4 separate regions of the Homo sapiens genome follow, and all the other regions are linked to region 1. The links come from fine-mapping of genetic effects on gene expression. A gene starts in region 1. Each other region holds a variant in brackets. All regions are shown on one strand. Distances are from middle to middle.

Region 1 (8,192 bases):
AAAGAAAGAAAAAAGGAAGAAGGCAGGAAGGCAAGGCAAGGCGAAGGAAAGGGAAGAAAGAAGAGGAAAAAGAAAAAAGGAAGAAGAGCATGCTGTATTCCACAAGAGAACAATATCATCTGGATTCCAGCACATTCCATTTAGACATGAATCTGAGTTAAAACTATCACTATAGCAAATAAGGTTGTATGAGGACTTGTGCATAACAAAGAGTCAATTTATGGCCAAATAAATCATCACGGATTTTATCATACTGTCTAGCCAGAGTGAGTGCAACCTGAGTTACGCCAACTTTGAAAGAGAAGGGAAGTAGAAATTTCTTTGCATCAGTCTCTAAGTGTGGGAGTCTGGTAAGTAAAGACACACTCAAATCATAGGTCTTGCCATCTCTTCTTAAAATCCCTCAGTCGGCTGTCTAGCTGAAACTCTAGGGGAGAGGAATTTACCCAGCTGGAATCCTCACCAATTTCCTTCCAGGTCTCCGCATGTTAATAGTCAAGACTTCACAGCCCAATGTTGAAGGCAGATTTTTATAGCAAGTACATACCTGTGGCAGTTTCACATCATTAATATCCCAGCTTAATATCTCTTTGTCTTCAGAATCAAAGTCGTCAGGTTCCATGATAAGGTCAGGCCAGCCAAGGTTTTCACCTATTCGACTCCCCTCAGAAATGCTTGAGAATTTTGTTCTCAAAGGTTCTTGATATAGCTGGATCGGCCCACTCAAGCACCTTGGACCAGGAGATTGTTTTCTAGGGCTAAAAAAATAAGTTATATTAGTATTGGCCATTAAAGAGATTTAAAAAAAAACCCCAATGCTCCTCTGCCAGAAAAACCTGTTTCACTGACATTTTTGCAAGTACCAACATACTAGTAAAAAACAAAACATAGGAGCCATAAGTGATTTTACTTAAAACTTGGCCATCGGGAATTAGAAGCGTGTGATCACTGCTTTCACCCTTGGGTTTGGGCTTGCTTTCTCATTGCAAGATCCAGGTTGTGAAGGCCTTAGCAGAGACAGTTGTCATCTGTAACCAATGGCTAGGACTTTTCCTGCTAGGGCAGGAGGATACTGGCTTGGAGTTGTTTCCATAGAAATGCCTTTATAAATTAGCTAATGTGTGGTTGAAGCTGCAAGAGGGGAACATCACACTGAATTTATCTAGGAAAATACATATATGTTTTATATATATATATATATATATATTTTTTTTTTTTTTTTTTTTTGAGATGGAGTCTCACTTCTTCACCCAGGCTGGAGTGCAATGGAGTGATCTCGGCTTACTGCAACCTCTGCCTCTTGGGTTCAAGCAACTCTCCTGCCTCAGCCTCCCCAGTAGCTGGGATTACAGGCATGTGCCACCACGCACAGCTGATTTTTGTATTTTTAGTAGAGATGGGGTTTCACTCTGCTGGCCAGCCTGGTCTCGAACTCCTGACCTCAAGTGATCTACCCGCCTCGGACTCCCAAAGTGTTGGGATTACAGGCGTGAGCCACCGCACCCGGCCAGAAAAAAAATATATTTGAAAATCCAAATCACTGTAAGGATTAGGTTTGGTCTCTGCAATAAATCCTGTGCGCACGATATATCTTCAAATATTATCAACTAATATGCTTATATCTGATTAATCTGAAACAGGGTTTCTTAAGTTTGGCACTATTGACATTTTGGACCAGATAATTCTTTGTTGTGGGGAGCTTTTTTCATGTTGTAGACTGTTTGGCAGCATCCCTGGTCTCTACCCATTAGGTGCTAGCAGCCTGTAATCCCAATACTTTGGGAGGCCAAGACACATGTATCACTTAAGTCTATGAGTTCAAGACCAGCCTGAGAAACATGCAGAAACCGTGTTTATACAAGAAGTACAAATCACTAGCTGGGCATGGTGGTGCACACCTGTAGTCCCAGCTACTTTGGGAGGCTGAGGTGGAGGATTACCCGAGCCCAGGAGGTTGAGGCTGCAGTGAGCCAAGATTGTGTCACTGCATGCCAGCCTGGGTGACAGAGTGAGACCTTGTCTCAAAAAATAAATAAATGAATGAATGAATAAATAAATAAATGAATGAATAAATAAAAGTTTGTTCAAATGGCATTTCTTCCCTCACGAGAAATAGTGCTCTAATTTCTAACTATAATTGGTTAAAGGAGGTTTACCAAGAAAAAAAGAAAGAAAATTTGAAGTGTTCTACCCTGAGGAAAAAAATGAATAATTTTGCAGATGAAAGCTACTTGTTAGTACGATATGAAGTGAAACATGTTCACATGTATAACATTTCATTTATTGGTACTCTTATAAAAACAAGAGACATAATGATGTTATGTAGAGCTATTTAATAGCGAACTCAAACTATAAGGTAGATTAATAGTCTAAGCTTTGGCGAGACCCATGAACTCTTTTCTTTAGTTTTTATTGTTTTTTTTTTTTTTTTTTTTTTAATGGAGTCTTACTCTTATCACCCAGGCTGGAGTGCAGTGGCGCAATCTCAGCTCACCATAGCCTCCACCTCTGGGGCTCCAGTGATTCTTTTACCTCAGCCTCCCAAGTAGCTGGGATTACAGGCACGCACCACCACACCCAGCTAATTTTTGTATTTTCAGTAGAGATGGGGTTTCACCATGTTGACCAGGCCGGTCTTGAACTCCTTTCCTCAGGTGATCCATACGTCTCTGTCTCCCAAAGTGCTGGGATTACAGGCATGAGCCACTGTGCCCGGCCTGTTCTTTAGTTATTTAGTGTTATATAATCCTAATACTTGTCAATCACTGAACTCTACCAAGGGAAAGTGTATGTATATAAAAGACCGTTGACCTGAACATAAGAATGAAGTTCCTTTTTTCTTTTTTGTGTGTGCTCTAGATGTCCAGAGAAATTTCTCTAGTAACAAACTATAGAAATGATCCCTGAAAGTATAGTCTTTATAAATAAAGTTCTTGACCATTAAATGACAAGCTAATCAGAGTCTCTTCCTGTCTGTTCCACATACCCATACTGAGCTACAACCTAGTGGTTGCAGAGCACGAAGTTTCTGTTCCCCAACTGAATGTTGATTTTCAAGACTAAATCCTCATGGATTTTAAGTAAAATTCTATGTTTAGGAAAGAAACATTGTGTTACTGAAGAAATGATGCCGCAAATTGACTCTAATTCAAAGGACTTAAATAACAGGTATAGAAGATGCAGATACCAAGCAGCAGTTCCGTGTACTTACCCTGAACAGTAACGATATTGTCTCTGATGGTGCAAATTTTGTTATAACTAATTGGAATAGATCTACTTTTTAAAAACCTTGGCAAATAAGATTCATATTTTCAAAAATCAAAAACATTGTTATAAAGCCTAGGCAATATAGACATAATTATTTTGTTTTTAAATTAAGGGAAGAATAATAAAGAAAATTTTATTACAGAACAACTATGTTACATTTTAGATTTTTCTCTCGATATTAACATTTGCTAAGCGAATGAGCATTAATTTAATATTTCCCTAAAAGTTAAGAACAAAACATAGAAAAGAAGAAAAAACCATTTTACAGCCCTTAAGTAAACTCTGTTTTCCTCTTCTAGGATTGAAAAACTACACTTGTCAAGACTCCTTTTTTTAAAGCAACTTGCGCAAAGTATATTCAATTTTCATCATTTCTACAGAAAAATGAACTAGAACAAATGAAACCCTGTAGGAATAGAGTGGTCGTTGCCACATCCCTTACATTTGCCTCTCCACGGGATTTCTGGCTTTCTTACCTTCTAACTTCTTACGGAGAAGCAGACAGCACTGTGTCGTGAAAATCTTACTGCTGGTTCAAGTCCCAGCAGGCTCTGGTCATTTTCTGAGCAGACGCTGTTCCCTATTCCAGGTCAGGGTACACTATGCTAATGAGTTCTGGCAATGGTCCAATCAAAATCTAGATGCTCTAGGCTCTGGATAGGTAAGAGCAGCCTGGGAGTCACTTAACCAGCCTGATTCTTCCCAGAATGCCAGCAATGTGATGAATATTCTATGATGTGTCTCTGAACTTCCCCCTCCCTTTATGTTATGAGGACATTTGAACTAAAATGGACATTGAAAAGAACCTCATAAGGAAGTACAGATGTTTTTCTTCTTGTGATGTTACAGGTTGGGCCCCAGGCAGACGATTCACAGTAGGTCCTAATTCTCCCACTATTTACCCGGCAGGTAATAGTTCTCTCTCATGTGTGCAAGAGAGAGAAGACAGACAGACAGAGATAGAGAGATATTATGGTGAGGAAATTTACTGGAATAGACAGTGGATAGCCAACATCCTCTATACCAGAAATACTGAAATGCTATCTTAACCCTAGCAATAATGTCCCACTAATTCTAAGTGTTCTGATCCCCTAAAAATATACAATTCTTGGCCGGGCGTGGTGGCTCACACCTGTAATCCTAGCACTTTGGGAGGCCGATGTGGGCGGATCACAAGGTTGGGAGTTCAAAACCAGCCTGGCCAAGATGGTGAAACCCCGTCTCTACTAGAAATACAAAAATTAGCCAGGTGTGGTGGCGAGCGCCTGTAATCCCAGCTATTTGGGAGACTGAGGCAGAGAATTGCTTGAACCCGGGAAGCGGAGGTTGCGTGAGCTGAGATTGCGTCACTGCAGTCAAGCCTGGGTGACAGAGCGAGGCTCCATCTCAAAAAAACAAAAACAAAACAAAACAAAACAACAAAAAAAAACGAACAAACAAAAACCAATTATTTCTTCTAGAGATACCCTCAGTGCTATTCTTCCTTTTAGAGACATCCGCAGTACAGCCTAAATCAGTTCAGTTCATATGTTTTGTTCTAGGTAGTCTGCCAGGCCTTGGCAACACAAGAGAGAATGAAAGCCATTAAGAAGTTCATTCTAGTAGAAAAGATGATTAAAGCTACTAAATAAGGCCGATTTAATTTGATGTATAGAATAAAAGTAATATAAATGAGAAGGCTATTAAGCTGGAGGGAGGAGAACCAAAGGAAACCCACCAAAATAATGCTCGATGAGCCTTTTGAAGGACAAATAGATATTTATCAAGGCGTGAAGGACTGGAAGAGGGTGTTTCGGGGAGTGACAATATCCTGGACAACATGACGAGGGATCAGTACCTGTCAGGAAGGTCCAGACTTTCAAGGATGAGGCTTAGGAGGCAGAGATGAGAAGGCGAGAAGGCAAAAGGCTTGGAAAGCCTCATAGTTGCATTCGGCGGCCCCTAATAGATTTCTCATTCGTCTTTCAGTTCATGAACAAATTCCTTTCCTGCCTGAAGTTTAAGACCCTGCTTCATCTTTTTTTTTTTTTGAAACGGAGTTTTGCTCTTGTTGCCCAGGCTGGAGTGTAATTGCACTATCTCGGCTCACCACAACCTCTGCCTCCCGAGTTCAGGCGATTCTCCTGCCTCAGCCTCCTGAGTAGCTGGGATTACAGGCGCACACCACCACGCTCGGCTAATTTTGTATTTTTAGTAGAGATGGGGTTTCTCCATGTTGGTCAGGCTAGTCTTGAATTCCCGAACTCAGGTGATCCACCCGCCTCGGCCTCCCAAAGTGCTGGGATTACAGGCGTTAGCCACCACGCCTGACCAACCCTGCTTGATCTTATTGTACTTTATCTGGCCAGTCTTGGTCTCCTCTCTGTAATCCCTTTGTTGGTCAGGAGGACATTTCTCCATCCATCAGATACATTGTATCAGGACAAAGCCTAAAATTATGCCAGCTGGTGAAAGAGGATGTCTACAGGGTCTAGGTCCAGAATCACAAGCGGAGTAAAGAGTGGATTTAGTGTCGACAGGCAATAAGTCAATCACTGGCACACCTGTTGTGCTTATTCACTTACTTAGGTCTATTCTCTAGTGTATTTTTCACATCCATATATCTGAACCCTGTCTACCCTTCAGGATCCCCAAAATGCCACCTCCTTATGAGAGCTTCCCACACTATTCAAGAACACATGATTCCTCATTTCTGTGATGCTCTTTTGTTTCTTTTTTGAGACAAGGTCTTACTCTGTCACCCAGGCTGGAGCACAGTGGTGTGATTATGGCTCACTATGGTCTCGCTTTCCTGGGCTCAAGTGATCCTCCCGCCTCAGCATCCCAAGTAGCTGGGGCTACAGGTGCTCACCACCACGTCCCGCTAATTTTTGTATTTTTTGTAAAGATGGGACTTCACCATGTTGTCTAGGCTGGTCTTGAATTCCTGGGCTCAAGAAATCGCCTGCCTTGGCCTCCCAAATTGCCGGAACTACAGGTATGAGCCACGGTGCCTGGCCATGTTGAACTCTTAACTGTGAATTATATGCTGTCTTGTATCACTTGGATCTAACAGTGTTTTTAAATTACAAAATAAATTCATGATTTATAAAAAAGTCATATTCTCATCTCCCATAGGTTTCCACTGTTAACATGTCAGGCATGTCCTTTCAAACTTTTGTTTTCCCATATCTTTTTGTTCCCATATAGAACAAAAGATATTATTTTTATTTGCAATCCTATTTTACGTGATATTGCCTTTAGTTGTTTTGTTTTGTTTGTTTGGTTGATTGGTTTTGTTTTGCTTTTTTTGGAGATACGGTTTCCCTGTGTGGTCCAGGGTAGACTCAAACTCCTAGGTTCAAGTCATTCTCCCCACTGAGCCTCCCAAGCAGCTGGGACTCCAGGTGCCCGCCACCACATCAGGCTATTGCTTTTCATTGTTGATGAGTGTTGGTTCTGGCTCCCCAGTGAGGCTGCTAGTTCTTTCACGGCCAAGTTGGGATCTTCTACTTTCCCTCTCCTCATAGAAAGACTTGCTGAGTTTCCAGCAGCAACATCACAGCCATCCTTGTCCCAAGCACCAACCCTACTCGGACACAGGAGGGCGCTGAGAAGCTCTGCCTTCACACTCTGATAGAGGTGTGACATGATGTCCAGACTAGTAAGGGTATTTTTGCTTTCTTGAGGCCAAGGTCCCAACTTATTACCCAAATTCTCCTAATTGTTTTTGTTTTGTTTTGTTTTTTGACACAGGGTCTTGCTCTGTCCCCCAGACTGGAGTGCAGTGGCACAATCTCAGCTCACTGTAGCCTCCTCTTCCCAGGCTCAACCTATCCTCCCACCTCAGCCTCCCAAGTAGCTGGGACCACAGGCACATGCTACCACACTCAGCTAATTTTAAAAACTTTTTGTAGAGACAGGGTCTCACTGTGTTGCCAGGCTGGGCTCGAACTCCTGGGATCCAGTGATCCACTGCCTCAGCCTCCCAAAGTGCTGAGATTATAGGCGTGAGCCACCTTACCTGGCCAAATTCTCCTAATTGGATCTCTGTCATTGTTATTAATAACAATAATCATAGTAGCTTCCCTTGACTGCACATTTACAATGAATCAGGCGCCATGCTTAATCACCTGTCTGTATTATCACTCTTGATCCATACAGCATCCCTATCAGATAGATACTATTTTTATTATGCCTCCTTTGTGGAGAAGGAGATCAAGGCTCAGACAAATAGCTTTACACAGAAATGTAAGTAGCAGAGCTGGGGTAGAACTCAGAGACATGCCTGTTGACCACGGTACTGCATGAAGAGCCCTATGTGTTCAGCATCTGGAGTCTTTGTCTCCACTCCTATAAAATCTGAGTTCTACATCACTCTTTCCACCCTGTGCCTCCTCCCCTAGAGACAGGAATCCTGCCTTAAGCCAGGTGGCTAGAGGCCCTATTACTTGGTAACTGACCTCAACCACTAATGATTGGATTTCTCAGTATCTCTACTTTTGCATTCCCTGACACTCTGAGGCCTGCCTATTGAGATCATTCTGGTTTTTTTTTCATCAATAGTGGTGCTTTAGGCATTTTAAGCAGGATAATTATTTGGGTCAGACTGTCCCATGCACAGAATTCCCAGACGCAAGATGCCAGCAACATCCCAGTCACAATATCAACCATAACCCACACCTTCATATTTCTACATGTTCGGGAACCAGGGAGGGAGCAGTATTGTGCTGCCTTTGGTTTGGGGTGACCATGCCAGACTCTCAGGGCTGACAAGTTTGCCTAGACTATTGCCTGCGGTTTCCAATTCACAGCCTAAAAGATACCTTGTTCTACCTAATGGATGAACTTCTACACTTACAGTTCTATCCTTCTGGTATCTACCCTATCTAGTTTCAGCCATTTGCCCAGTTCTTCTACTGTGGACTTTTTTTTTTTTTTTCAAG
Region 2 (8,192 bases), 70 kb after region 1:
CTAAGTTCCTCCCAGTTAATTACCATATCCCTTTGCTCTCCAATCATATTTCTGCATGACCCTCTACAAAAATACAGTTTTCCCTGTTTCCCTAAGTCTTTATTTCTGAAGTCTCCCATGCCATGTTAAACTTACATTAAGTATATTTGTATGCTTCCCCTGTTGGTCTGCTTTTGTTATAGGGGTCTTTGTGATGGGAGAACTTTGTGATGGGTGAGAAAATGTTACTTTTTCTCCCTTACAGCCTCCTTAAGAATGTGGTATTTGGACAAAGACTCAAAGATAGTGAATTCACCCTAGGTATTTGTAGGGGAGGGTGTTCCAGGAAGAGAGAATAGCCAGAGCAAAGGCTCAAATGGGGCCAAGGCCTGTCTTGATTGTAGCAGAGTGAACAACGCAAGAGTCATGAGACATGAGGTCTGAGCTTCTGTGTGAGCCTGGATGTGTGTGTATGTGGAGAAGCTATTCATGTAGGGTCTTGCAGCCAAGAATATGTTTATATATGTTTCCCTAAAATTATGCCTGATAACAATTTTCTCTTTCAGGAGATTACTTAGATCCAAACCAACCTAGTTTTCATTTCTCTTGGCATTTTGTCCAGCTTCCTGCAAGCTGCAGCTCCTCAGAATTTCCCCACCACTACTACCTTATTTTCTTTGCACATTTAGCTCAGTCCTGTCTCCAAGAGCATCACAGCTCTGTCATTTGAAAAGCACTTAGTGAGTTTGGTGGAAAACTAGGAATTAATACTATCACAGAAGCTGAAAAGTAGTTTCAATACAAAGAAAATGGTTACAGTCAAGTCCCTTGTAGGGCTGTGTCAGGCAAGCATAGTGTCCTTTGGTTATAGAAGAACTAACAAGTTACTTTTCTATTTGACAGGAGCATTTCATTAACTTTAAAGAAACGAGGGCCTGTGGAGCAAAAGATAGAAACCAGCAAGCCATATTGTCTAGAATTAAATGGTTAAAACAGAGAAAATAACCACGAAATGAAAGAAGACTGGGCATCAATTGAAAAGACAGAAAGTCTAAAGGTTTTTTTAAATAGGTAACTTAAATGTATTTAAATATGGTTAAATATTACATATTAAATATGGAACAGAACAACACTGATGACTGACAGTTTGGCTGGTTCTAATAAAAAGATCTTAGTCTAGTTTAATAATTAAAATCTTATTTTGACTGATATGTTCATTACTGGTTCAGTGAAATTTTAAAAGGGTCACTTTCATCTCCAAATACGCTGACCTGGAACATATCTGATCTGGGTAATATAAGACTCATCCCAGAAAGTTCAATGGTAAGAAGGTTAAAAAAACATTCTAGCAATTAACTGTCAGAAAGTTTCACAAAGGCCTCTGGGCAGAAAATCTAATTATATCAGATAAAAATGCAATGCTATCAAGAAGAAAAAAACAATGTTGATGATATAGACTGAATATTTGTGTCCCACCAACGTTCATATGTTGAATTCTAATCCTCAATGTGATGGTACTAGGAGGTGGGGTCTTTGGGAGGTTATGAAGTCATGAGCAGAGTCCTCATGAATGAGATCCTTGTTCTTATTAAAGATACCCAAGAGAGATCCCTGCCCCTTCTGCCATGTGAGGACACAGCAAGAAGATGTTTATCTAGAAACCAGGAAGTGGGCCTCACCAGACACCGAATCTGCCAACGCCTTGATCTTAGACTTTCCATACTCCAGAAATAAATTTCTGTTGTTTAGAAGTCACTCAATCTATGGCACTCTGTTACAGCAGTCCACGCGGACTAAGACACTTGATATATCATATATATCATATCATATGTATCATATAATCTTTGGAAATATAACTAAAGAAATTCCTCTTGTTTCAAAAGAACAGAAAGCAGACAGGTGGTTTATAAATACTCTATAAAACACAAGAACACCATGAGGAAATGTGATACATCTTAGTAGGGGCCAAACATGGAGGTGGTCTCCTTGAGAAAATATCCCCTGCATGTTCCAGACAGACCGAATGGCCAACCCTGTGTCTCATGGGTGGCCCTCTGGAAGCACAGTCCACATTACACTGACATTACCTATTTATGTGCTTGTGTCCCTAGTCAGAGTGTAAAGTCAAGGTCAGAGCCTGTGTCTTACTCATTTCCCAGCATCTAGCCCAGTGCCTGACCCATGATAGGTATCCTGCAATGGGAGGGGAGCTGAAGTGAGTGATACTGACAGAGGTTAGTTAGGGGAGGTCTTGTACTTCTCTTGAATCTTTAACCTACCTTCTTATTGACCACAAATTAGAAGCATTTATGTAAAAAAGAAACTTCCAACAATTATATTCACGTTTTTCTTTCAGCTTGCTTATGGGCAAGTATTTCTAATGTAGAAACCTAAAAAATTTGAGGCATTCTAATACCTGTTAAACATACAACTACAGACCAAATGATTTGCTATATTTTTTTTTGCAGTCTAGTTGAGGTGTCTATATAATGAGCAGAATGGGCTCCCGAACACTGGACAGTAAAATAATTAAGAGCTGGTCTATGGTATGTATATATGTATGTATGTATTTATTCTGAGACAGAGTCTCGCTCTGTCACCCAGGGTGGACAGCAGTGGTGTGGTCTTGGCTCACTGCAACCTCCAACTCCCAGGTTCAAGTGATTTTCACACCTCAGCCTCCCGAGTAGCTGGGCCTACAGGTGTGCACCACCACATCCGGTTATTTTTGTAATTTTTGGTAGAGATAGGAGTTTCGCTATGTTGGGCAGGCTGGTCCCGAACTCCTGGCTGCAAGTGATCTGCCCACCTCAGCCTCCCAAGTGCTGGGATTAAGGCATGAGCCACTGCACCTGGCCTATGAGTCTTTATTGAGGGCCTGCTCTGTGCGGTTTTCAGTACTAGGTATAATATGACAAGATAAAGTCCCTGACCTTCATGAACTCACACTCCAGAAAATAAATGAATAAAATTTCAGATAATACGAGCTGTGAAGAGAAAAAGGAGTGACTTGAAGGAAGAGGTATGACAGGGAAAAACTCTTGAGGAGTTGATGTTTGGCTGCGACCCAAGTGAAGAGGAGGCAGCCACGTGATGACTCGCAGGAAGACCATTCTAAGAAGAAGGCCCAACAATTTTTTTTTTTTTTTGAGACGGAGTCTCGCTCTGTCCCCCAGGCCGGAGTGCAGTGGCACGATCTCTGCTCACTGCAAGTTCCGCCTCCCGGGTTCACGGCATTCTCCTGCCTCAGCCTCCCGAATAGCTGGGACCACAGGCACCCGCCACCATGCCCGGCTAATTTTTTGTATTTTTAGTAGAGACAGGGTTTCACCGTGTTAGCCAGGATGGTCTTGATCTCCTGACCTTGTGATCCACCCGCCTTGGCCTCCCAAAGTGCTGGGATTACAGGCGTGAGCCACTGCACCCAGCCAAGGCCCAACAATTTGAAAGCTCCTGGAGAATTTGACAGATATAAGGAGGCCAGTGTGGCTGGAGCCTGGTGGATGAGCAGAAGAGTGTGGGTGAGGACTGAGCAAAGAAGGCAGGGTCAAACCATAAATCATGCTAGGGGCTGGGTTATTACCCAACACATAATTGGAAGCTTTTGGAGGAATAGCAATGTGATTAAGTAAAATTTTTGTTTGTTTCTTTTGAGACAGGGTCTTGCTCCGTCAC[C/G]CAGGCTGGAGTGCAGTGGCGCGATCATGGCTCACTGCAGTCTCGACCTCCTGGGCTCAAGCAATCCTCCCACCTTGCCCTCCCAAAGTGCTGGGATTATAGGTGTGAGCCACTGTGCCTGGCCTAGCAAATGTTTTTAAAATATCACTCAGACTGCCATCTGAAAAGGGGCTGCTGGGATGGCAAGAATGAAAGCAGGAAGAGAGGACTCCAGGAGGGTGGGTTCCCTGAAGCCTAGAGAAGAAAGGGCTTCCAGAAGGATGGAGTGGTCAACTTGCCAAATCCCACAGAGAGGTAAGGTAAGGACAGAGAATGGACCATTGGCTTTGGCAAGATATAGGTAGGTCACTGATGACCTCAGTAGGAGCTGTTTAGTAGAGGGATGCCATGGAAAGCCTCGTAAGAGTGGACTGAGGATGTGAATAAATCAACTACAGTCAACTCTTTTGAGATGGAGTCCAGTTTCATGCCTAGACTGAAATTCAAGATTCATAATGAAGAATTCACTTTTATCAAGCATTGACAGGAGTTAGACACATCTCAAACCATATTTTAAAATACAGCCAGATTACAATGTTACCTGATTCTGAGACTGCCTGTAACTTGATTCATAATAGTGACAGACAGCACTTGGACTAGGACACTAGAGCTGCTGAGAAGGAAAATTGCACCCAGCTTCTTTGCTTCCTGCAAAGATGCACCAGGATCAGAGAAGAAAAGACCAAGTTCTATAATTACCTGGCAGGGGAGATACCATGAACACAAAGATGGTTTTCCCAGGGTGAGTCTCATCCATTGCCCTCCGGATGTGCTGACCCCTGCGATTTCCCCAAATGTGGGAAAGTCGACTGCATAATTTGTGTTAATGGGGGACTGTGTCCACGCTTTCCGCCGGAAAAAAAAAAGAAGAAAAGAAAAAAAAAAAGAAAAGACAAGACAAGACCAAGTTCTGAGAGTGCTTGAAGAAGCGGTACTAGGAGAAGACTGCACTGCCCTAAAACCTTTGACCAGAGATTCTGGGAAGGCTTGGACAGTGACAGGCATGCTGGACCCTGCAGCTGTTGACAAGGGAGAAATCTTAATTATATTGGGTGAAATTCTCCTATAGAGAAAAGAAGATAAAACTATATGTTTTTGACCAGAAATGCCCAAGAGAGCTCTGCTACCCTCAAGAATCTATTCTTCCTGAAAATGTGAAGATAATGGCTTAGATCTGGAAACCAAAGATAGTCTCAGATGTGGCTGTGAATTTTAGTGGGTGGGCAATGTGGGGTGGAGTGGGGATAGAGGGCTGTTGTGGAAAAGGCAGCCCAGCCTGCTCAGAGGTGTGTATATAGACCCACATTGCTGGCAAGCAACTCATCTCACTACCACACAATGTTTTTTTGTTTTTTGTTTTTGTTTTTTTTAAGACAGAGTCCACTCTGTTGCCCAGGTTGGAGTGCAGTGGCATGATCTCAGCTCAATGCAACCTCTGCCTCCTGGCTTCAAGCAATTCTCATGCCTGAGCCACCTGAGTAGCTGGGATTATAGGTGTGGAGCACCACACCTGGCTAATTTATTTTTTTTGTATTTTTAGTAGAGATGGGGTTTCACCATGTTGGCCAGGCTGGTCTTGAACTCCTGACCTCAAGTAATCCGCCCACCTCAGCCTCCCAAAGTGCTGGGATTACAGGCGTGAGCCACTGTGGCCAGACACAAACAATGTTTTTTTTGTTTTTGTTTTTGTTTTTCTTTGAAACAGGGTCTCACTGTTGCTCAGACTGGAGTACAGTGGTGCAAACATGGCTCCCTATAGCCTGAACCTCCTGCACTCAAGTGCTTCACCTGCCTCAGCCTCCTGTGTAGCTGGGAACACAGATATACGCCACCATGCCTGGCTAGCTTTTGATTTTTTTGTAGAGATGAGTTTTCACTTCATTGCCCAGTCTAGTCTTGAACTTTTGGGCTCAAGCAATCCTCCCACTTTGGTCTCCCAAAGTGCTGAGATTACAGGTGGGAGCCATTGTGCCCAGCCTTTCTGCAGCTGGAAAAAGAAGACCAATGAGCTGTAGAGGGAGAAATTCCACAAGGCATAAAAATATACCAGGCTTATATCATCCAGGGCTGCAGATGAGCCACAGTTGAGGAACCAGGCCATGGAACACAGTGAGGGAATTCATTCTGCTAAATTAAAGCATCCTTCCTCCAGGATTGTCACCATGAGGGCATGGCCTGGCCAGAGTTGAGACTGTCAAATGGCTCTCAAGATAGTTCTGAGGTCTAATATAGAAGAGGCTAATGAAAAAGGAAGTTGCTCATGAATGCTCACCCACTTACTTTAAAGAGGTAAGTCAACAAGAACACTAGGTGGGATGGAGTGGGGGATGGGATAATTGTTGCTGATTAAAAAAAATTTGCAAAATTGTTAAAATAAAGGCTGGAAAATAATCACCTACAATGGATGTATGACTGCTTATTTAGGTATTCCTCTATTGTCAGACACATAGAATGCTTCCAAACCTTGTTGATGCAGCCATTAGCATGGTTATCATGCTGCTACGGCACAGAGAAGCGGATGCCAGGCAGGACCACCTGGACATGCACTCCGATTGCAGAATGTGAAAATCTCCCGCAAATCGAGAAAGATCAGAAAGGGACATTGAAAAATGAAAATATTTTCGTTAGGATTGTGGGCTTATGTGTATTTTGAAAAGTTTAAGTTAAAGTTATTATCTATTTAAATGTTCAGTAAATTTTTTAGGCAACTGTTTTGTTTGTTTGTTTGAGACGAAATGTTGCCCTGTTGCCCAGGCTGGAGTGCAGTGGTGTGATCTCAGCTCACCGCAACCTCTGCCTCCAGGGTTCAAGTGATTCTCCTGCCTCTGCCTCCCTGGTAGCTGGGATTACAGGTACCCAACCCCATGCCCAGCTAATTTTTGTGTTTTTAGTAGAGACGGTATTTGGCCATGTTGACCAGCCTCGTCTTGAACTCCTGACCTCAGGTGATCCGCCTGCCTTGGCCTCCCAAAGTGCTGGGATTACAGGTGTGAGCCACGGCACCCGGCCCCAGGCAACTGTTTTAATAATAGTTTTGGTAATGGCAATAGATGAAGTTGTGAGCCGCTAGGCACATGGCAGCGTTAACTCATACTGGTTGCCTTTGTCCACATCTCCAATCCAAACACTGCGCTTTTCCTGAGCCCAGAGAATGGTGGGTCCTGGGACCCTCCTCCACAGGAGAAAGCAGGCACAGTTACTTTTCTTACTTGAGTCTGCTGAGGACTGAAGATCAGCCACGGAGAAGCCCTGGGGTGAGAATCAGACCAAACTCTAGATGCTTGAGGTGGGAAGGCCTGTTGATCCCTGGGGGAGGAGCTGTGCTTGTCCACTCAATAATTCCTTAGAGGTTGCTCTCCCATGCCAAGGAGTGAGGGAGCTAAGCTCTTTCTACCTGCAAGGCCTACAGCCAGTCAGCTGAGGAGACTGGGGAGAGAGAGGCTTCCTCCTTGTGTTCAGGTGGGCTCTGTCAGCTGGGCAGTGGTTGCACAGCTGAACCATGTGGGGAGATAGTAGTGTTCCTTCCACCACTCATGGTACTGCTGCCTGCTATGGTCTGAACGTTTGTATCCCTCCCTGACAAATTCATATGTTGAAACCTAATCCCCAGTGCAATTGTTTTAAGAAGTGGGACCTTGGGAGGTGATGGAGCCCTCATGAATGGAATTAGTGCCCTTATAAAAGACACCAAAGGGAGCTCATTCACCCCTTCTGCCATGTGAAGACACAGATAGAAAATGCCGTCTATTAAGCAGAGAGTGAGCCCTCACCAAACACTGAATCTGTTGACATCTTGATCTTGGAATTCCCAGCCTCTAGAACTGTAAGAAATAAACTGTTATAAGCCATCTAATTTAGGAGATTTTTTTTTTTTTTTTTTTGAGACAGAGTCTTGCTCTGTCGCCTAGGCTGGAGTGCAATGGTACAATCGCTACAATCACCTCTCACTGCAGCCCCGACCTCCTAGGCTCAAGTGATCCTCCCACCTCAGCTTCCTGACTAGCTGGGTCTATAGGCATGCTTCACCATGTTTGGCTAATTTTTGTATTTTTTGTAGAGATGGAGTTTTTGCCATGTTGTCCAGGCTGGTCTCCAGCTCCTGGGCTCAAGCCATCATCTCGCCTTGGCCTCCCAAAGTGCTGGGATTACAGGTGTGAGTCACCATGTCCTGCCAGGATTTTTGTTACAGTAGCCCAAATGGACTAAGATGCTACCACTGTAAGTTCTCCCCAGGCCTGAGTGAGCCACTGAGGGAAAATAGCAAAGAATACCTAAGGGACCCAATAGCCAGAGAAACGGCAAACAAGCAGAAAGTCGGCAGTCCCCACGAAAGTGGAACTGTTGGAGAAAACAAATGACAACCTGAACCAAAAAATGATAAGAGCATTTACAAGAACTCTAGCAGCCCCCATGTGGGGACAAGACTGACTTTATTTTAACTGCTAATCTGCCTGACTAAGCCTGAGTCCAGGAATGCCTCCAAAATATGTAGTTGATGT
Region 3 (8,192 bases), 42 kb after region 1:
ATCCCAGCACTTTGGGAGGCCGAGGCAGACAGATCACCTGAGGTCAAGAGTTCAAGACCAGCCTGGCCAACATGGCGAAATCCCGTCTCTGCTAAAAATACAAATATTAGCCAGTTGTGGTGGCTCACGCCCGTAATCCCAGTTACTTGGGAGGCAGAGGCAGGAGAATCACTTGAACCCGGGAGGTGGAGGTGGCAGTGAGCCGAGATCACGCCATTGCACTCCAGCCTGGGCAACAAGAGTGAAACCCCATCTCAAAAAGAAAAAAAGAAAAAGAAAAAACAAGAGACAACCACCTAAATAACCCAATGGAATAGGAGGGTGTGGGGTCAGGGCCATTAAGCCTGAACTGCCCCACCTGCCTAAGATAATTGCATTTGAAGGGATCCTTGAAATGGTTAAACACACAAATTTTGGAGAAGAATTTAAGTGATTTCCAACCTGGAACTCTGTAATCCCAGCTACAGGCAGGAGAATCGCTTGAACCCGAGAGGCGGAGGATGCAGTGAGCCAAGATCGCGCCACTGCACTCCAGCCTAGGCGACAAAGCGAGACTCCGTCTAAAAAAAATAAAAAAATAAGCCGGCCGGGCGCCATGACTCACGCCTGTAATCCCAGCATTTTGGGAGGCTGAGGCGGGCTGATCACGAGGTCAGGAGTTGGAGACCAGCCTGGATAACATGGTGAAACCCCTTCTCTACTCAAAATACAAAAATCAGCCGGGCGTGGTGGCAGGCGCCTGTAATCCCAGCTACTCGGGAGGCTGAGGCTGGAGAATCACTTGAACCCGGGAGGCAGAGGTTGCAGTGAGCTGAGATTGCGCCACTGCACTCCAGCCTGGGTGACAGAACAAGACTCTGTCTCAAAAAAAAAAAAAAAAAAAAAAAAAAAGCTAAAGAGAAGCCGGAAGTGCTTCCTCTGAATGAAAAGGTGAAAGTTCTCAGCTTAAAAGAAGAGGAAACCATCGTATTTTGAGGTTGCTAAGATCTGCAGTAAGAAGGAATCTTGTATCCCTGAGATCGTGAAGAAAGAAAAAGAAATTCATGCTAGTTTCGTTGTTGCATCTCAAACTGCAAAGCTCACAACAGTGTGTGATAAGTGCTTAGTTAAGGAAAAAAAAAACATTGAAATGTGTGGGTGGAGGTCATAAACAGAACTGTGTTCCGCTTGATGGCGATCAGGTTCAGTGCTATGGGCAGTTTCAGGCTCTGAACTTATCCCCTGTGGATAAGGGAGCGGGAGGGCTACTGTCATCCCTTTTCAGGAATCAGTTGCAGAAGAGATGTCTCTAGAACTCCTCCCACCAAGGTGAAGCTCCACCAAAAGCACCAAGAACCATAATACTGGTATGTCTGATCTGGTTTTGTTTTTGTTTTTGTTTTAGAGACAGAATCTCACCTGTGACCCAGGCTGGAGTGCAGTAGCTCACTGCAGCCTAAAACTCCTGGGCTCAAGAGACCCTTCCAGATCTCTTGGGACCGTAGGGTCCCAAGTAGGACCACAGGCATGCACCACCACACCCGGCTAATTTTTTATATTTTTTGTAGAGACAGGGTCTTGCTTTTGTTACCCAGGCTGTGATCTGTTTATTAAAATATGTCACTAGAGGTTAGAGCTACATCTCCTACTATTCTGCCTAGTAAGCATAATTAAGTAAAATATTCACTAAGTATAATTAAGTAAGTATTCATTTAGTGAAATAACTGAGTAGGAATCTAAGAACTAGGTTCCAGCCTAATCTATACCCAATGTGTAAGATATTACATGGGATCTGATCCTTAGCAAATGTCTTTATATTGATCCACAGTAGATCAACAGAATATATTTTTTAAAGACCTGTTCAAAGTTTTAGACAACTAGGGCCAGGCGTGGTGGCTCATGCCTGTAATCCCAGCACTTTGGGGGGCCGAGTTGGGTGGATCACAAGGTCAGGAGTTTGAGACCAGCCTGACCAATATGGTGAAACCTCGTCTCTACTAAAAATACAAAAAAAATTAGCCGGGCGTGGTGGCACATGCCGGTAATCCCAGCTACTCAAGAGGCTGAGGCAGGAGAATTGCTTGAACCCAGGAGGCGGAAGTTGCGGTGAGCCGAGATCATGCCACTGCACTCCAGCCTGGGCGACAGAGGGAGACTCCGTCTCAAAAAAAAAAACAACAAAAAAACACAAAACTAGATCATACAAAGTTAAAATATAACTTTCTTGAGAGTCATGATTATATTTAGCAACTTAAATCATTGCCACTGAAAAGCTTGGCTTCAGTTTTAAGCAACTAATCTAAAAGCTATGGCACAGAGCTTGCAAGGTGTGGGCTCTAAAGGGTTACATTACATAGCTAAATCATATAGTTGCTTGGCTGCCTTTATGCTAGACATCAAGTCAGGCAACTGGAATTCAACTCCTGGCAACCCCATTTACTACTTAGCTCTTGGACAAGTCACTTAATCTCCTTGCATTTCATCTGTAAAATAAAAATGATAATACATTCCTGCCTCATTCCACCACTAATGTAGGTGGAATAACATAAGTATGCAATAACTCTAAGACTCTAAGGCTCTGTGAAAATGTTAGTTATTTTTAACGTAAACTACAATAATGGTCAAAATGGCCAATATTGGCCAAAGCCACACAGGATCCTTCCCAATCCCTTGAAATCACCTTCTGATAACATTGTATATTATTATATTTTATATATTTCTAGTAGATGGACACCCACCTTCCACCCTCAAGTACACCCCAGCGCCTGTTGTTCACCACCTAGTGTCCATGTGTTCTTGATGTGTAGCTCTGACTTATAACTGAGAACATGCAGTATTTAATTTTCTGTTCCTGTATTAGTTTGCTTAAAATAACGATCTTGTTCTTTTTTTTTTTTTGAGATGGAGTCTGGCTCCATTGCCCAGGCTGGAGTGCAGTGGCACGATCTCGGCTCACTGCAAGCTCTGCCTCCCAGGTTCACGCCATTCTCCTGCCTTAGCCTCCAGAGTAGCTGGGACTGCAGGCGCCCATCACCACGCCCGGCTAATTTTTTTTTTTGTATTTTTAGTAGAGACGGGGTTTCACTGTGTTAGCCAGGATGGTCTCTATCTCCTGACCTCGTGATCCACCTGCCTCAGCCTCCCAAAGTGCTGGGATTACAGGCGTGAGTCACCGTGCCCAGCCAATCTTGTTCTTTTTTATTGGCTGCATAGTATTCCATGGTATATATGTAACCACATTTTCTATCTTTTTTTTTTTTTTTTGGAGACAGAGTCTCGCTCTGTTGCCCAGGCCTGGGCGACAAGAGTGAAATATGTCTCAAAAAAAAAAAATTAGCCAGGCATGGTGGAACATGCCTGTAGTTGCAGCTACTAGGGAGGCTGAGGCACAAGAATCATCTGAACCCAGAAGGCAGAAGTTGCAGTGAGCCGAGATGGTGCCACTATACTCCAGCCTGGGCAATAGAGCGAGACTCTGTCTCAAAAAAAAAAAAAAAAAAAATAGAAAATGTGATTACATATATACCATGGAATACTATGCAGCCATAAAAAAGAACAAGATCATGTCTTTCACAGCAACATGGATAGAGCCAGGGCCATTATCCTAAGCAAACTAATGCAGGAACAGAATATTAAATACTGCATGTTCTCAGTTATAAGTGGGAGCTACGCACAAGAATACATGGACACTGGGAGGTGAACAACAGGTGCGCTAGGGCATACTTGAGGGTGGAAGGTGGGAGCAGAGAGGGGATCAGAAAAAATACCTATTGGGTACTATGTTCATTGCCTGGGGACAAAATTTTCTGTACACCAAACCCCTGTGACACACAATTTACCTATTTAACAAACCTGCACATGTACCATAAACCTAAAATAAAAGTTAAAAAAATGGGAGAAAGAGAGAGAAAAGAATCTGGTAAAGCTTTCTTTTTCTTTTTTTTTTTTGAGAAGGAGTTTCGCTCGTCGGCCAGGCTGGAGTGCAATGGCACCATCTCAGCTCACTGCAACCTCTGCCTCCTGGGTTCAAGCAATTCTCCCACCTCAGCCTCCTGAGTAGCTGGGATTACAGGCGCCTGCCACCACCATGCCCAGCTAATTTTTTTTTGTATTTTTAGTAGAGACGGGGTTTTGCCATGTTGGCCAGGCTGGTCTCAAACTCCTGCCCTCAGCCTCCCAAAGTGCTGGGATTACAGGCGTGAGCCACTGCACCTGGCCTCTAGGTGTATATACTTCGGTAAATAAATATTGATATTCATATGCATTAAAATCCTTGGAAGAATAAAAAAGAAACTTGTTTTAGGAAGGGAATGCTGGGTAGATGGGGGACAAGTGTAGAAAGAAACTTCACTCTGTAATTTTCTCTTAGTTTTTTTAGACATAGGAATGAATTACACATTCAAACATTTTTAAAAATAAACAATTTGGCTGGGCGCGGTGGCTCACGCCTGTAATCCCAGGATTCTGGGAGGTCGAGGTGGGTGGATCACCTGATGTTAGGAGTTTGAGACCAGCCTGACTAACATGGTGAAACCCTGTCTCTACTAAAAATACAAAAAAAATTAGCCAGGCATGGTGGCGCATGCCTATAACCCCTGCTACTTGGGAGGCTGAGGTAGGAGAATCAGTTGAACCTGGGAGGTGGAGGTTGCAATGAGCCGAGATCGCGCCACTGCACTCCAGCCTGGGCAACAAGAGTGAAACTCCGTCTCAAAAAAAAAAAAAAAAAAAAAAAAAAAAAAAAAAATAATAATAATAATAATTTAAATATGAAATGAAAGTAACTCTCTTCTAAAATTCTTATAGTGTGGTTTCTTGGTGGCCACCAAAACCCTTGTCACAACTAGCTCTGGGAGTTGAAGATGTATAGGAAGATAAGTGGTTTATTTTGCTATTTAATCAACTTTAAGTCT[C/T]TAACAAGTATACTTTGATTTAATGAAAATGGCAACTCAGCAAAGGATTTAGGGCTGTAATTCAGGATGAAACAAACAGGTTGTGATGAGGAAACTCCCCTGCCTGAGGGGTGTCCTGAGAGGGTCAGAGGCTCCAGTCTAGTGAGATAGGAAAGGAAATGCATTTGCCAAAACGGAATTTAAATTTTTTTTTAACTCTTATTTTAGATACAGGGGATACATGTAGATTTGTTACATGGGTATATTGTGTGATGCTGAGGATTGGGATACGGATGATCCCATCACCCAAGTAGTGAGCATAATTTTTCAAACCTTGTCCCCTTTCCTGCCTGCATCCAAAATAGAAATTTGAAAATAATTCTCCACACACTGCAGTGGATGTTGGCAAGGGAACACCATTGTTTCCTACTTAACCCTTGCTGGATGTGTTTAAGAGTTCTTACCAGATTGCTGGCAGCAAAAACACTAATGTATTCATTCATTTACTTAGATCAATACAGTCCGATTCTTTGCCAAAACCCCTGTGTTACTGCTTGTCCTGTCTCTCGAACAGGGTGTTCTGGTCAAATCAAGAGGAGATCAAATGTCTAGGCCTTCACTTTCAGCAGCTGGAACTGAGTTGAAAAAGAGAGACTGCCCTCTGAAGCGAAATCACAAAACAAAGGTGAAAGGAGAAGGCCATCAACAAAAGAAAAAGAGAAGCTGAATTTATTATCTTTTTGTTTTTCTCCCTGAGGCAATGGAAACAGATAGCAGAGGCGTGGCTCTCCAGGCGACTTCTGTGCTTGCCTGGTCAGCACATACAGGGCATTCTTCCTAGCTTCCAGCCTGCTCTGCAGAGTCCTCCCCTCCTTCCTTCCTCCCAACCTCCCTCCCTTGCTCTCTTCCTTAACTCTTGGCTTCATTCTGGGTTTTTTTGTTTGTTTGTTCTAAATTCTGTTTGCTCTTCGTTCTGTTTTTTCGTTTGTCCTAAAAGTCAGGTTTATTAAAATATAACTTACATAGAGTGAAATTCACCCTCTTTAGGTGTACAGTTCTATAGTTTTATAACCACCCAGATATAGAGCATTTGCATCAAGACATAGACCATTTCCAACTGGGTATGGTGGCACACACCTGTAGTCCCAGCTACTCGGGAGCCTGAGGTGGGAGGATGGCTTGAGCCCAGGAGTTTGAGGCCGCAGTAAGCTACGATCATGCCACTGCACTCCAGCCTGGGCAACACAGTGAGGCCTCATCTCTCAAAAAAAAAAAAATTTATAATAAAAATAAAATATAACAAATTAAACTTAGCTACAAATAGTTTCGAAACTGCTCTCTGGGAAACAGTTCTCCACCTTTGACATTTAATTTTATAATAAAAAAACATTTCCATCACCCCTCAAAATTCCCTGTGCCTCTTTGCAGTCAGTTTCAACAGATGGTCTCTGTTCAAAGTCATCTCTGCTGCTTATTGATTTTGTGCTGTGGACAAATGACTTGGCTTCCCTGTGCCTCCGTTTCTATATTTTTTAAGTGGGGATAATGATACAAACTAGTTCATGGGGCTGTTGTGAGGAGTAAACACTCAAAAATGACTTGTCATCATCATTATTGTGTGCATAGTTGGTGCTCTATAAACAACAGTTTGTCATGTGGGCAGGCACATGCTGAAACATTGGTCTGTTGCATACTTGCTTCATGTTCAAGAGTCTGGCACCAGCATACAGTTGGTTTTCTCTAATTCATAGGATTTTATGATCCCAGAACTGATGGGTACAAGAAATTAACTAGTCCAGTCCCCTGCCTTCCATGACAGGATAAAATATTGTTGTTCTCATCTTAAAGAGTAGCTCACTGGGCCGTCAAAGGCAAATCTGTTCACCTAAGGGGTAGAAAATGGAAGATTTAATGGAAAATGAGAAAGATCAGGCAAGGGATACATTGCTCAAGGTAATCATAACAGCTAAGAAATGCTAAAGGAGGAACAGATTTCAGATTTCCTGCTTCCAAATCTAGAGCTCTTTTGACTACATTGTAGCATTAATAGATGTATCCTTTCTAGATCTTTGGTTGTAGTTAGTGACAGTAACTGTAACATTGAGCAAAGACTAACATTAATAGATGTATCTTCTCTAGATCTTTGGTTGTAGTTAGGGACAGGAACTGTAGCATTGAGCAAAGACTAAATTAACATTAATAGATGTATCTTCTCTAGATCTTTGGTTGTAGTTAGTGACAGTAACTGTAACATTGAGCAAAGACTAATATTAATAGATGTATCTTCTCTAGATCTTTGGTTGTAGTTAGTGACAGTAACTGTAGCATGGAGCAAAGACTAAATTAACATTAATAGATGTATCTTCTATAGATCTTTGGTTATAGTTAGTGACAGTAACTGTAGCAAGGAACAAAGACTAAATTAGAAGGGGAAAACTTGCAAGGCCAGTTTGGACAGTTCACTTCTGCAGCAGTTCATTTGCTGTCAGTTTTGTTGTAGTCTTTTTTCCTGCCTTTCCCTAGTAAATATTTCCAGTAGAAAGAGAGAAAATACAGCTTGAGCAACATGGCAAACCCTGTCTCTACTAAATATATAAGAAATTAGCTAGGCACAGTGGCGCACGCCTGTAGTCCCAGCTACTTGGGATACAGAGGTGGGAGAATCACTGAGCCCAGGAGGTCAAGGCTGAAGTGAGCCGAGATCATGCTGTGGCACTCCAGCCTGGGAAACAGATGTGAGATCCAGAAAGAAAAGAAAGAAAGGAAAAAAAAAAGAAAGAAAAGAAGGAGGAAGCAAGGAAGGAATATAAGAAAGAAAGGAAAATAAAAGAAAAGAAAGAAGAGAAAAGGAAAACAAATGCAGGAGGTAGGAAGGAAAGGAGAGGAGCGGAGAGGACAGGAGGGGAGGGGAGGGGAGAGGAGGGGAGGGGAGGGGAGGGGAGGGGAGGGGAGGGGAGGGGAGAGGTGGCCAGTCGTGGTAGCTCACGCCTGTAATCCTATCACTTTGGAAGGCTGAAGCAGGAGGATCCCTCGAGTCCAGGAGTTCAAGACCAGCCTGGGCAACATAGGGAGACCCTGTCTCTATTAAGAAAAAAAGAAAGAGAAAGCATACTTTTTCCTGCTTGAATATCTGTATGAGTAGCTATGGGGCTGTGTTCAGGCCTGGGAATGAGTAGTCTGTCACCCACATACCTGAATCTCTACCTGTGGGGCCAGACACTTTAGGATACCGTAGGATGTATTATCTTCAGGAAAACACCACCTGATCACCCAGACCTAACCCTAAGGCATGCGCGCCTTACCTTTCCTGCCCCCACCAGC
Region 4 (8,192 bases), 87 kb after region 1:
CTTGACACAAATAGCCTATCCCGAAATGATAAATGTATTTGTTAATGGAATTTACCCATTTTATACATCGCACATGTTTTGTATGTGGTGTTGAGCATAAAGGTCTTCATTATGAGTCAGGAAATGTAAGTTCCACTTCCAATATGAGCTGTGTCGCTGTCACAAATGGCTTTATTATTCAAAATTTTCAGACCACAGTTTCCGTCTTCATTTGACTGAGAATAATTCAACGACAGAGAATGTTCTAGTCTCCTTTGTGTCTCTAGTATCTAGTACAGGCCCCAAAATGTTTCAGGGTGGAATGGCTAGGGAAGGAGGAGAATAAAGGAGGAAGAGATTTATCTTGTAACATCTGTCCTGATGTTAGCAATATTAATTAAAACAGTTTGCAGGTTTTGTTGAAAAGGTCTGTTGTCCATCTTGGTGGCAAACTAGGAGGAAATGGTATCTAGCAAAGGCCTCTTTGGCATAAAGGGCACAGAATGTGAAACTGACATGTACACACAATGGGATGCCTTCCTTTGGCCACCCTTCGTTTCCCCTTGTTCTTTCCGAAGCAACTGACACCACAAAATGAGAAGAGGTGGAACGGGAGAACGGCTCGCAACAATGACTTACCTGGCTGCTTCCTTTTCAGTTACCTTTGTGGACAGACACAAGAATGCAGAGGCCAGAGCTGCCCTAACACAATGTGGAATTGTGAGCTAGTTTTGTGCCACTAAATATTCTTTGTGCCACTATATATTCTTCAGTGTCCTCAATTCTTTTTACCTTTGCAGAGCTAACTCTTATTTTAGGGTTGTGCCAGGATTTAAACTGGGAGCATCAGCTGCAGAGGGCAAAGGAGTCAAGCTAATAAGCTCTCCAATTCTGCTTCTTGCAGACTGCTTCAGTTTTGAAGGAGAAGTCGTCATTTTTAGAATTCTTACTTGCGTTCACCCTGTACCCTGAATGATTAACTCCTAGTGTGTCCCTTAAGTTTAACCCATATTCCCCCTCTGCTCCTAGGAATGTGAGCACGCTTTCCACTCAGTGACCAGGATTTTAAAAAACTATTTTCAATCTGCCTCCTCTTCCTCTACCCATTTCCCCAATTGCAGCCCTTACCCTCCACCCCTCTCCTATTAAACTCATGTCCATTCAATCTCCAGACTTGTTGGGGGAAGTGGCAGCATTGTAAGATAAACCTTAAGCAATTATTAGTATTTATTTATTTATTTTGAGACGGAGTCTCTCTCTTTCGCCCAGGCTGGAGTGCAGTGGCGTGATCTTGGCTGCAAGCTCCGCCTCCGGGGTTCAAACGATTTTTCTGCCTCAGCCTCCCAAGTAGCTAGGACTACAGGCGCACGCCACCATGCCTAGCTAATTTTTGTATTTTTAGTAGAGATGGGATTTCGTCATATTGGCCAGGCTGATATCGAACTCCTGACCTCGTGATCTGCCCACCTCGGCCTCCCAAGGTGCTGGGATTACAAGCGTGAGCCACTTGCACCCGGCCTATTTTTTTCTTTATCTTAAGTTCCAGGGTACATGTGCAGGATGTGCAGGTTTGTTACATAGGTACACATATGCTATGGTGGTTTGCTGCACCTATCAACCCATCGCCTAGGTATTAAGCCCCACATGCACTAGCTGTTTTTCCTGGTGCTCTCCCACCTCCGGCACCCCAGCCTGAAGTTATTATTAAAGTTCAGTTTAACTCTTGTGGTGTCTACAAAGCGTGACTTTGTTGAGTCTTCAACAGATTGTAGCATTACTCACCTTATGTCATTAAACTGGAGAGGCTGGGGTGATAGGATAAGGGAAGCACACAGCTCAGCATGTGGGGAGTTTATTTAAAACTCTTGTGTCTTTCATTGACTAGGCAGATGAAGTCATTGCTGACATATAAATCAACAAAATACTTTTAAAATGTAACTTTCTTTCGTGGTTTGTTATAATAAATTACCCCTGACTACTCTTTAAAAAAATCACAAAGAGAAAATTATAATTTTCCTTCATCAAGTTCAATACTTGTGAGCGTCTTTCAGGTAAATTAAGAGGAAAAATACATACAAATAGTTACATTTTGGAAATATTTGCACCTAAAACAACAGAATATGTTCTATGGGAGTAATAAGTAGTTCCTAATGTTGATTTATCTAAATGTATTATTTCTTTTTTTTAATAATGTGACTATGATGACCAGGAAAGGAGCCAAAAAAAAAAAAAAGGTTTGAAAATAAATGAAAATAAATGCAAAACCTTAAGTGGTGCACACCTGTAATCCCAGCAATTGCGGGCGGGGGAGGTGGGGCAGTGGCTGAGGCTGGAGAATGGCTTGAGCCCAGGAGTTTGAGACCAACCTGAGCAACATAGTAAGATCCTGTCTCTTTAAAAAAGAAATAAATCGGCCAGACATGGTGGTTCATACCTGTAATTCCAGCACTTTGGGAGGCCAAGGTGGGCAGACCACCTGAGGTCAGGAGTTTAAGACCAGCCTGGCCAACATGGTGAAACCCTGTGTCTACTAAAAATACCAAAATTAGCTGGGCGTGGTGGCGGGCGCCTGTAATCCCAGCTACTGGGGAGGCTAAGGCAGGAGAATCGCTTGAACCCAGGAGACAGAGGTTGCAGTGAGCTGAAATCACACCACTGCACTCCAGCCTGGGTGACAGAGCAAGACTCCATCTCAAACAAACAAACAAAAATAAAAGAGAAATAAATAAATAAGGAAAAAAGGAAAAAGAAGAACTTGTGAACTTGCAAAGAAAAATGGTCTCATTTGGTAACACTGCCCAAATTGGGTGATTTTTTTTTTTATTTTATTTTTTAACTTTTTACTGACAAGAGAGATTCTCTGGCACGAACTGAAGGTGCCCTCTCTTCTGGGTGATGTGTATTAACATTGTACTGAGTCTGGTTAGGGTGGCTCTTGACAGGATAATACTTTCTTTTTTATTAAAAATAATTGTATTTAGGCCAAGTGTGGTGGCTCACGCCTGTAATCCCAGCACTTTGGGAGGCTGAGACAGATGGATCACCTGAGTTCAGGAGTTCAAGACCAGCCTGACCAATATGGAGAAACCCCGTCTCTACTAAAAATACAAAATTAGCTGGGCGTGGTGGTGCATGCCTGTAATCCCAGCTACTGAGGAGGCTGAGGCAGGAGAATCACTTGAAACTGGGAGGCAGAGGTTGTGGTGAGCTGAGATCGCACCATTGCACTCCAGCCTGGGCAACAAGAGCAAACCTCAGTCTCAAAAAAAAAAAAAAAGGAAAAAAATTTGTATTTACTTAGAAGCATTCAGAATGTCAACAAAATGTCAACAAAACAGCTGCAACTTTTTTTTTCAATTATAGAGTGGTATTCAGTTAATGGAACAACAATTATTTGGTATAAGCTGCATCAGAGACAACTGAAGATGAAAAAAACTACCATCACCATGTATAACTAATTTGCGCTGTGCACCAAAAAGAACCTGTTTGAAATTTTCATGCCAATTTACAACCCCCATACTTTACCAGGCAAGGTTAGTGGTTATTGAAAATACTAGCAGGGCATGGTGGCGTGTGCCTGTAATCCCAGCTACTCAGGAGGCCGAAGCAGGGAAATCGCTTGAACCCAGGAGGCAGAGGATGGAGTGAGCCAAGATGGTGCCATTGCACTCCAGCCTGGGTGACAGAGGAGACTCAGTCTCAAAATATAAAAAGAAAAAAATACCACCAAGACATCGCTATCTAAAGAAACATTTCGGTAATGTGTTAATTATACAAAAAAATAGAATGTATGGTTTAAAAACAAATTTTACACAGCCTTACATTTCATTTTTTTTCTTTAAAAGGAGTGAGTTGTGTACAGGCGGGCTAAATGCTTTACAGACAAGAAAAAAAAAAACTAGAACCAACTTATTCATTATCATTGTCTTCTTCATCTTCATCTCTTTATCTTCC[C/T]CCTCCTCACCCTCTTCATTTTCCTCAGCTTCCTCCTCTTTTTCTTGCTTTTTTTCAGCCTTGACAACTCCCTTTTTTGCTGCATCAGGCTTTCCTTTAGCTCGATATGCAGCAAGACCCTTTTCGCATTTTTCCTTCGGCTTTGCAGCCTTCTTCTCCTAAGGCTGCTTGTCACCTGCAGCAGTGTCATTCCACATCTCTCCCAGTCTCTTCGCAGCATCACCAATGGACAGGCCAGGATGTTTTGGGCAATACTCAGAACAGAATAGAAAAAAAGGCTGAAGGAGGCCTCTTGGGTGCCTTGGGATCCTTGAACTTCTTTCTTGTCTCCCCTTTAGAAGGGATATAGATTTTCATTTCTCTTTCATTATGGGCCTTGTCCGCCTTTGCCGTATCTTCAAATTTTCCTTTCTCTTTAGCAGACATGGTCTTCCACCTCTCTAAGCACTTCTTAGAAAACTCTGAGAAGTTGACCTAAGCATCTGGATGCTTCTTCTTATGCTCCTCCTGACAAGTTTGCACAAAAATGCGTACGATGACATTTCGCCTCTTGGCTTCTTAGGATCTCCTTTGCTCATGTTGAGTAATTTTTCCTCAGTGAGGCACAGAGTCGCCCAGTGCCTGTCTGGCTTTCACTTTCCCTGGTGCTGTCTCTATCGAGAGGATAATAATTTAAAAGTTGTAAATAAGCATGTCTTATCCTTCAGTTCTCTAAAGCAGGTTTTACATGAAATCTGAATCTGACTGAGAATGTTACTGTTCATTCTTTTCAAAGTTCCAAGTAGACAAGCCACAAAAGCAATTTCTCAGTTTCTTTGGTATGGCTCATGCAAATAAAAACTGGTGGCTAAGACCTAAAGAACAGTTTTAATCTCTGAAATACCGATGACTTCAGGCAGAAGCACAGATGGGTAGGAAGAGGGAGGCAAGGGGAGAGATTTCTCTCCCATGATCATGTTGTCCCAAAAAGGGTCCTTGTGTACAGTTTATAAGGTCACATGTTGACACAATGGTTGTTAAGACCTTGATGAAAAGAGTCAGAGGAAGCCAGTGTGAAATACTCAATGACATATCAGTGGTGAGGCCTTGAGGCATATAAAGAAGGTCATCAAAGTTTGCCATCTCTTTTATCTGCTCTTGCCCACCTCTGCCTAGATGTTACAAATGAAGGAAATATTTGTTGAGAATATATTTATCTGAATGCACTACGTGAATAACGAGAATGTTGGAAGAATGTATGACGGTATATATTGGCTCTTTCAATATTAAGGACCTCGTATAGTCCTTTACTAATCTTAAGGCTTGTCCAAAAAAGATTAAACAAATACACAAAAACAGCCTCCTCCCTCCTACAGTAAACCCAAATAAATCTGATCAGCTTGAAATTATTTCTACAATAGCTCTCACGGCTATCAGGATTTAGTCTGATCTCCTGGCAAAGCCAACCCAGCCCCGCATGAGCCCCCGACCCTCTGCCTCCATCCTTCTCATTCCCCCCGCTGACCCCACCCCCGCCCCCCGCCATGTTAACTGTGAGGTCCTTGACATGCACGCTCCCGCCTCACACCTCCAAGCCTTTCTTTCTCCTGTTCCCTTTACCTCCATGTCTGTCTACTCTCACCTGTCCTTCCACATTTAGTTCCGACATCACCTCCTCCTGAAGGCTTTCCTGCACTGTCTCCTTGCTCACACCAAGACTGGTGCCTCGCCAGTGTGTGGCCATGCATGCTGTCCAGGACTCCAGCACAGGGTTCTACTGAATGGAAACCTTTTTTCTTTTCCTGTTTACTGTTTCTTGTTGTTGTTGTTGTTGAGAGAGTCTCGCTCTGTCACCCGGGCTGGAGTGCAGTGGTGCGATCTCAGCTCACTGCAGCCTCCATCTCCCTGGTTCAAGCGATTCTCCTGCCTCAGCCTCCCAAGTAGCTGGGATTACAGGCATGTGCCACCACACCCGGCTAATTTTTGTATTTTTAGTAGAGATAGGGTTTCACCATGTTGGTCAGGCTGGTCTCGAACTCCTGACCTCAGGTGATCCACCCACCTTGGCCTCCCAAAGTACTGGGATTACAGGTGCGAGTGACTGCACCCAGCCTCCTGTTTACTGTTTCTTTTCTCGTAATACAAAACCTGTCGGATAGTAAGTGTTTAATGTACATTTGATGAATGAATGGTTTAATCAGAGTTTGTTTCTAATCTTGTTTCCAGCCCACATTAGCTTATTCACCTGTGTGCAAAAGTGGATGAGGACAAATAATTGTTAAATCGTTTGCTTGACTAAGAATGTTTTACTGATAGCAAGTTGGCAATCTGAAAATTAGTGGGAGAAGTAGTGATGGGTACTGAACAGACTGCCAACTTAGATTCTGATTATCTGCTGTGAATCATTTCTTTAACCTTTGAAAGCTTTTAAAATTATTTTTCTGGGTATAATAATAATGTGGCTAACTAAAAATAATGAAGATCATGTTTATTGTAGATGTGTGCTAAACATCCATGTTTTCATCCAAGTGCTACAATTGCAACCCCCACATTACCTCCTTTCCCCACTCTGCCTACTCCTAGCATACATGCGGGCATGCGTGCATGCACACACACACATACACACACACACACACACACCCCTAGACTAAACCTTACCAGATTTAGTCTGGTAAGACACATTTCACCACATTTCCAAAGTTATAATGGATCTTGGAAGGGAAAGCTATGGAAAACAGTGATAGAAACATACTTATCACACAGCGATAGAGCTCCCTTTTGATCTCTTCAAACAAGACAAGAAACAAAGAGCGAAAATCATCTGAGAATTCAAAACTGCTGGACTATTCCCATTGCACCGAGTCATGTGGATCTGTGTCAAGTACACAATCAGTTGCAAGTCAGCTGATAGACAGAAAAGAGTTACTTCAGAAAGATAATCTCAGGGAGCTTATTATACTCCCTTTGAAGTAATGAGTCCAGTGAACTTGAACTGGAGACTTGAAGTCTCTGATTTCTGCTGTCACTGGAAAGGAATTACTTTTTCTTTTTTTTGAGACAGAGTCTCACTTTGTTGTGCAGGCTGGAGTGCAGTGGCGCAATCTTGGCTCACTGCAACCTCTGCCTCCTGGGTTCAAGTGATTCTCCTGCCTCAGCCTCCTGAGTAGCTGGGATTACAGGTGCGCACCACCACGCCCGGCTAATTTTTTGTTTGTTTGTTTGTATTTTTAGTAGAGATGGGGTATCACCATGTTGGTCAGGCTGGTCCCAAACTCCTGACCTCGTGATCTGCCTGCCTAGGCCTCCCAAAGTGCTGAGATTACAGGTGTGAGCCACCATGACCGGCCAGGAATTACTCTTGACAATTTTCTATGTAATTTATTGGAGAATGACAAAAGTGGTTGAAAATATTATTAGCTGGAATCTTGGCCTGTGTTGGTAAACAACAGATAAAAAGTTTTAAGGGTGGAACTTGCAAGTCTAATTACACAACATTAAAAATAAGTCTCCATATCAAACATAATTAGTAGATTTCAGATGAACTTGAGGAACTATTAGAACAACTTACCTAAAGCAGTTTTGTTTCTCAGAAAAATGACGTTATAGATCTGGCCTAGAATTTGGCATAGAAACTTTTCCTACAAGGTATAATGAGAAACAGAATCAAAGCAAGAGTCTTAAGACTCAGTCTTAGTTCTAGTTTGGTCTTTGTGATCCTGGCCAAGTCACTTCAACATGAACTTGGTTTTCTATGTCTACAAAGTAAAAGGGTTGGGCTACTATCGCTGCTGTACTACTACTACTGATCTATTTGTGCTGGATTATTCTATATCCAGATAAATGAGGCCAAGTGTTTCTGGCATCACCAACCACCATTTAAACAAATAGCATCCCCTCCATAGGGGAGGAGGCTGCACACATCTGCTGCTCTCCACCCTGAGAATGTGGATGAATTCCAATCAGCAGCCACCACCTGACTGATTTGCCCACAGCCTGCTCTGGGTCCATTGGCTGGGAGGCTTCTGGAGGCAGCTGGGTCATGTCATCCCAACCCAAACTGGTGATGTGAAAGAACAGTCACATGTGTGAGCAGGTGCATAACCCATTCTCAGGAGGGAGAATGGAGTGAAGGAACAGTGGTTTAGGTAATGACTCATTCAGGTTATTCATTCTGTGTGTAAAGCCCAAGGCCCTCCAACTGGCCCTGACCTACCTGCCCCGACTCTTCTGCTTTCCCGACACCTTCTCTGGGCCTCTATTGCCCTTCTCGCTAGTGCAGC

Evidence for each region. PIP is the estimated chance that this variant, and not a neighbour inherited with it, causes the effect.
Region 2: its variant is fine-mapped to the expression of GCM1 in whole blood (TOPMed, PIP 0.91).
Region 3: its variant is fine-mapped to the expression of GCM1 in whole blood (TOPMed, PIP above 0.99).
Region 4: its variant is fine-mapped to the expression of GCM1 in whole blood (TOPMed, PIP above 0.99).

What each region holds. Positions count from the first base shown.
Region 1 is chr6:53,145,011-53,153,202 of GRCh38, forward strand. GCM1 (glial cells missing transcription factor 1) reads right to left here and starts at 3,831. Exons shown (of 6, transcript NM_003643.4): 1 at 3,744-3,831; 2 at 548-758. The coding sequence starts at 622. It also overlaps the pseudogene LOC124901513.
Region 2 is chr6:53,214,877-53,223,068 of GRCh38, forward strand. It overlaps the pseudogene RNU1-136P. Among named protein-coding and RNA genes, the nearest start is that of MIR5685, 58 kb to the right of the region's middle. The variant C/G (reference allele first, on the strand shown) is at 3,655.
Region 3 is chr6:53,187,400-53,195,591 of GRCh38, forward strand. No RefSeq gene overlaps it. Among named protein-coding and RNA genes, the nearest start is that of GCM1, 43 kb to the left of the region's middle. The variant C/T (reference allele first, on the strand shown) is at 4,893.
Region 4 is chr6:53,231,733-53,239,924 of GRCh38, forward strand. It overlaps the pseudogene HMGB1P20. Among named protein-coding and RNA genes, the nearest start is that of MIR5685, 41 kb to the right of the region's middle. The variant C/T (reference allele first, on the strand shown) is at 3,934.